2 separate regions of the Homo sapiens genome follow, and region 1 is linked to region 2. The links come from fine-mapping of genetic effects on plasma protein levels. A gene starts in region 2. The other region holds a variant in brackets. All regions are shown on one strand. Distances are between the middles of the regions.

Region 1 (2,902 bases), 350 kb after region 2:
TCCTGCATCTAGCAGCAAGGGGTTCTGAGAATGTAGTTTAGGCCTCTCAGCCCCTATAGCAGAGGAGGACAAGCAGAGGGGGTTGAAGGTGCTATTGAGTGAGTGGCCTACAGCAGTGGTCCCTGACCTTTTTGGCACCAGGGACCAGTTTCATGGAAGACAATTTTTCCACAGATGGCGGTGGTGGGGGAAGGATGGTTTTGGGATGATTCAAGTACATTACATTTATTGTGCAGCTTATTTCTATTATTATTACATTGTAATGATAATGAATAATGAATGTTGAATAATAATGAACTAATTACATAAGTCACCGTAATGTAGAATCAGTGGGAGCCCTGAGTTTGTTTTCCTGCAACTAGACTGTCCCTTCTGGGAGTGATGGGAGACAGTGACAGATCATCAGGCGTTAGATTTTCATAAGGCGCACACAACCTCGATCCCTTACATGCGCAGTTCACAATACAGTTCATGCCCCTATGAGAATCTAATGCTGCCACTGACCTGACAGGAGGTGGAGCTCAGGTGATAATGTGAGCTATGGGGAGTAGCTATAAATAGAGATGGAGCTTTGCTCACTTACCCGCCACTCACCTCCTGCTGTGCAGCCCTATTCCTAACAGCCCATGGACTGGTACCGGTTCATGGCCCAGGGGTTGGGGACCCCAGCCTATAGCATCTGCCACACCTACAGAACTGAACAGAGGCCATTCAGGTGCATACTGCAGGTGTGAGATAAACTAGTTTAGCTCATCATCTGCAGAGCTGGTAATAATCATTCCAAGGCCTCATCAACACAGACACAGGTTACTGCTCATTGTTGAATATTCTTGGCCCATATCCTTAACTTGTGGGTGCTTCTCTGTCCCAGATGCCAGTCCTCACTTTGTAGGTGGTTCCATGCCCCAGGATCCCCCACCAAAACCCTGGAGCCATCCCTGAGATGTGTTTCTTTGTCTTTATCTTCTGCGTACTATTATGAGGAGAGAAGGGTCCTTTGAACAAAGTTGGCTTAAAGCCAGTTTCTTTTCTCTCTTCCAGGAGCAGCAGTTTATTCAATGAGGTTGTGCAGATGAACTTTGAAATAGCCAGTTTCAGCAG[C/G]CTTTCAGGGACTCAGCCCATCACGTGGCAGGTGGAGTACCCACGGAAGGGGACCACAGACATCGCCGTGTCCGAGATCTTTGTCAGCCAGAAGGACCTGGTGGGCATCGTTCCCTTGGCTATGGTGAGTCCTGAGTTACCTTGGATGCTCCTGCATTCAGCCACCTGACTGCATCCTGTGTCCTTCCTATCTGTCATGGGATGTTTGCTACAATGATTTTATGGAGTGTTTACTTTCAAAGTTTCTCGTCTTTCCTCACCCTGGAAGTTGTTACTTTTCATGAGCCTGGCCTTTCTCAACTTTAGTCATGAAGTTTAGTCCAGCAAGTCACAATCATTGCTGGAGGTGGAAGTGAGCACCTGTGATTTTAAGAAGCTCACCAGGTGATTTCAGTGTGCAGCCAGGGTTGGAAACCCCTGAGCTAAAAGGATGGTCAGCTTTGCCATCTTTCTGCAAACTCGGTTCCTTCTTGCTCCCCACTCCATGCTTGAGATAGATGCCCTTCATCTCCTCTTTCCTTAGGATGATGGAGCTCACTCAGCATTGAACTCTCAGAGGCTGTCACTGGGCTGTGAGGTCAACCTGAAATGTAGAAAGTAGATGAGTGACAATGGGCTTGAGTAGTGCAGCACCATCTATCTGACTCACAATGTGGCCACTCTTAGATTACTGTTAGTAGTGTACACTGATGAGAACGTGTAAGCAAACATGCTACTTGTGTGAATCATGCTATGAGAAATGGATTAATCAGGATTATAAGAAAATGGATTATTCAGGATTCTTTGAGTTATAAAGGCTACAAACACAACCCAACTTCACCTTGGCTCATGTAAGTTTAAAAGTCTAGAAAAGTGTTTCTCAAACATTATCGGGCATGCAGATCACAGGAACATTTTGAGTAGATGCCCATCCTCACTTAGGAGGTCTGGGTTGGGTACTTATTTTTCAAAGCTCCTAAGCCATGTCAGCGCGGCTGGTCTGCAGACCACACTTGGAGTGTGAGGGGCCCACGTGTGCAAATGATGTGGTATGGACAGTGGCTTCTCTTCCTTTCTCAGCTCTCCTTCCTCTTTGTTAGTCACAAGGTGGCCCCGGCAATGCCACGCTGGCTTCTTCACAGCATCATGTCCAGCAAGAAATGAGTGGAAACCTCACTGCCAATCACTCCAGCAAATCCTTTGGGACAGAGACTGATTGGAACTGATTGGCTTGGGTCATGAGCCCAACTTGAAGCCAATCACTGAAATCAAAAGGATGTGTTGCTCTGATTGGCCAGGCCTGGGGAATGTATCACCCTGGGGCAGGTGTGGAATCAGGTGAAGGAGATGTAGCAGCAGGTGGGACAGGTGTAGCATCAGGTGAGGCAGGTGTGAAATCAAGTGGGGCAGATGCAGAGTCAGGTGGGACAGGTGTGGAATCAGGTGGGGCAGGTGTGGAATCAGGTGGGGCAGGTGTAGAGTCAGGTGGGACAGGTGTGGAATCAGGTAGGGCAGGTGTAGCCTCAGGTGGGGCAAGTGTGGAATGAGACTAAGAGCCTGTGCATCATGGAAAAATTTGGCTTTCACTGAAACAGGGAACAGATGCTGGTCAGACAAAATAGCAGATGTGCACCCCAGAAGGTATCATCTACCATAAAGATCTGTAAACACTTGGAAGTCAGAGAATGATTCCTTTTGACTTTTTATGTCCTAGAACAGGGGTCAACAAACAACAAGCCATGGGCCACATCCAATCTGCTGCCCGGTTTTGTACACCATGCAAGCTAAGAATGGTTTTAACATTTTTAAATATCTACATTTT
Region 2 (2,902 bases):
TTCCGTTTTAGGAGCCCAAATCTACTTTACAACTGCCCCCTGCCCCCAAGGTCAGGTCTACACTAGCTGAATGTACTGAAGAATTGGGCGATTATCAGCATAATCCACTTTAAAAATCAAGTCTCTGCTATCCAGGCCTATGAGAATCAAGCTTTTACCGTTCCCTTTGGGGCCTGGATAGTTTTCAAGCTGCCTTCTCCTCACATCATGTGAGTAGAGCCGGCCAAGAAAACCAGGGAGACATCTCCCCCCAGCCTGGCCCAGACTTCCGGGCCCCACCCCAGGAGAGAGCCTCCCACTCTGGCCAGTGCCCTGCAAAGCCTTCGCCCCACCCCGCCCCAATTTCTCCTTATGCCTGGCTCATTCCTTAGGGGCTGAGTTGGGAGATAAGACTTGGGGTTGCAGTTGCTGGGGATCATTCGTTTACATTTCTTTTCTTTCAATCAAGGACTTCTTTTTTTCTTTTGAAATTCTTTCCTGCACTGATGGTGAGAAAAGACCCCTCAGGCTTCCTTTTGATGTTGGACCGAGCCAGCCCACGGTGAGAGGGGATGCTGAGCCCGTGGTGAGGAGCTCAGGACAGGAGGGGACGTCCAGAGACCTCCGAACCCATGGCCCTTCATTCCCAGTCACAAGGGGGGAGTCGGGGTCCCGCCCTCAAACTGCTCAGACCACGCGTGGCAGAAAGAGCAGAGCATGAGCATCAGGAACCGCACAGGGAAGCCGCTGAGATCACCTGGGATCACCACCATGAGGGAGGCCAGCCCTGGAGAAATCAGAGGGAAAAGATAGAGAGAACGAAGTCGGGGGGGGGGGGGGGAGGGCGGATCTTCCTTGTCTGAGTCTGCAGAGAAATTGCCTATTGCAGGAGCAAGTCTAGAGAGGGGCTATTCTCCACCCACTGAAAAGATAATAAAACACATGCTATGGGCGGCGGGGAGATGATTGGGGAGTGGAAGCCCCACAGACATGCAGTGAAAAATGATCCTTTCTTCCCCTCTGCGTTCTCGTCCCCTTCCCAGAGACACCGCTGTGATCTCGTGCCTCGCCCCCTCCGCACACGCACAGGTGCACACCCGCATCTGTCTTGAGCCCGCACCCCGCCTTCACGCTCCGCTGCGCGCTGCTTTTCCGCGCTCAGTGATCCAGTTAGGAGCTCTCCCCGCAGCAGCTGCGCGGGACTTTGCATTCCAGATGTCCCCAGCCCTCCAGGCTAAAGCAGCGGCCACCTGAAGTTGAGGAATGGGGCGTGACGACCACCAGGTCCCGCAGTGACCACGGGAGGGTGGGGAGAAGGAGTCCAGCTCCGCCTTGAGCGTCGGGTCCCTGGGCAGGACCCTCCGGGCCACGGGCCGCTGTCCGTTGGGCACCCGGGCAGGAGTCTGCGAACGCTGAGTTTCTCTGGAAAGGCGCGGACCCCCGGAGGAGCCGTCCCAGCCGCCTGGGGAGACGCCCCCTCCTCTCCCGGTCTTCTTTCCCGGGCACACCCTCCCTAGCCCGGGCGGGGGGGTTCTCCATCTGCCGCCCCTCCCGGCGGGCAGGCGAACTCTCTCCTACCGCACCCTCAATCTGTCCGCGGTCGCGGGGCTCGGCGGGGGCGGGGCCCGGGCGGGGGCGGGGGCGGGGCCGGGGGCGGGGCGGGCCGGCGGCTGCGGAGGCTGCGGAGGCTGCGGGAGAAAAGTTGTCCCGGCCGGAGCGCGAGCAGCGGCGGAGCCGGAGCCGCCAGAGCCAGAGCCGGAGCTGCGGCGGCGTGGACCCGGCAGGGGCGGGCCTCGGACAGCAGAGACGCAGCGGGCCCGGCCGACCGGGCTGCGGGAGTGGCCCCGGGCATGGGGCGGCCGGCGGGGGCCGCGGGCGGGCGCTGCGCTTCGGGCTGGCGGCGGGCTGCGTGAGCGGCCGGGACGCAGGATGCGCTCCGAGGGTGCGGCCCCCGGGCCGGCGGCGCCGCTGTGCGGGGCGCTGAGCCTGCTGCTGGGCGCGCTGCTGGGCAAAGGTAAGGCCGGGGCGGGTGCCTGGCGCGCCGACGCATGCGAACTTCCCGGTTCCGGGGGAGCTCGGGGTGAGGGCAGCCGAAGCGAGGGGTGCGGCGGGGGCCTCGGCGGGGGCTCGGATCCCATCAACAGCGCCTCTGCGGGTGCCGAGCCGCCCCTAATCCAGAAGGGCGCTCCCAGCTGGGCGCCGGGATCCGGGCAAGTTAGGCTGGTCCCGAGTCCCGAATCTCCCACCCCGGACCCCCCAGACCCAGAGCTGCCCCGCGGATGAGGAGGGGGCGTGGCTGAGGGACACGGTGTTTGTTCCCCATCCCTGAGTTCCGTGCGGACCTGCCCCAGCCCCAGCACAGTCACCCTGTGGAACTGGCATCCAGGAGAGGTGCTCCGCTCTGTGCGCTCCTTCCTCCCGGCTGTGTGCTCCCTGTCCACAGCTCCCCATCCACAGCTTCGGCACTGTGGGGCTGGTGCTCCAGGAGGGAAGGCCCGGTTCTTTGCATCCCCTTTCCGCAACCGCTAGGGTCTCTGTGCGGGCCCTAGAGGAACGCTCACTCATCGCGCAGCTCACCAGGGACCCCAGCTTGGCAGAAACCAGGGGCTCTCTGCGGGTTCTCTCAAATGAGTCCTTTGCGGTGGGGGAGCGCGGATGGGGAGGTGGGTGCGTCCCTCGCGACGGGAACTACCTCACCAGCGGTCCTGTCCGGGGCTCCTTCACCTCAGTGTCCTCTTCTCTACAATGGGAGTGACGGCCCTGCTTTGGGTTGGAGGAATTTAAAGGAGTTAACGTATGGCGCCCGCAGGGCTCACGAAAGGTAGCCGTGTGGTTTTTCCGACCTTTTTTATTATGTGCGTGTGCGGCCGAGTGGCCGCGCGGATGCGGCGGCGGGAAGGGCGGGGAGAGGCGGTCTCCAGCC

What was found. PIP is the chance, under the fine-mapping model, that this variant and not a neighbour inherited with it causes the effect. Protein levels are from the aptamer-based SomaScan assay of Sun 2018.
Region 1: its variant is fine-mapped to the plasma level of the TMEM132C protein (Sun 2018, PIP 0.95). The variant lies in the coding sequence of TMEM132C. If it changes the protein, the assay may bind it differently, which can mimic a change of level.

Annotation. Positions count from the first base shown.
Region 1 is chr12:128,615,111-128,618,012 of GRCh38, forward strand. TMEM132C (transmembrane protein 132C) reads left to right here. Exons shown (of 9, transcript NM_001136103.3): 4 at 1,042-1,225. Among named protein-coding and RNA genes, the nearest start is that of SLC15A4, 210 kb to the right of the region's middle. The variant C/G (reference allele first, on the strand shown) is at 1,102.
Region 2 is chr12:128,265,495-128,268,396 of GRCh38, forward strand. TMEM132C (transmembrane protein 132C) reads left to right here and starts at 1,676. Exons shown (of 9, transcript NM_001136103.3): 1 at 1,676-1,993. The coding sequence starts at 1,909. LOC107987176 (a long non-coding RNA gene) reads right to left here and starts at 1,538. Exons shown (of 2, transcript XR_001749176.1): 1 at 1,077-1,538. RefSeq lists enhancers at 822-1,343, 1,879-2,717.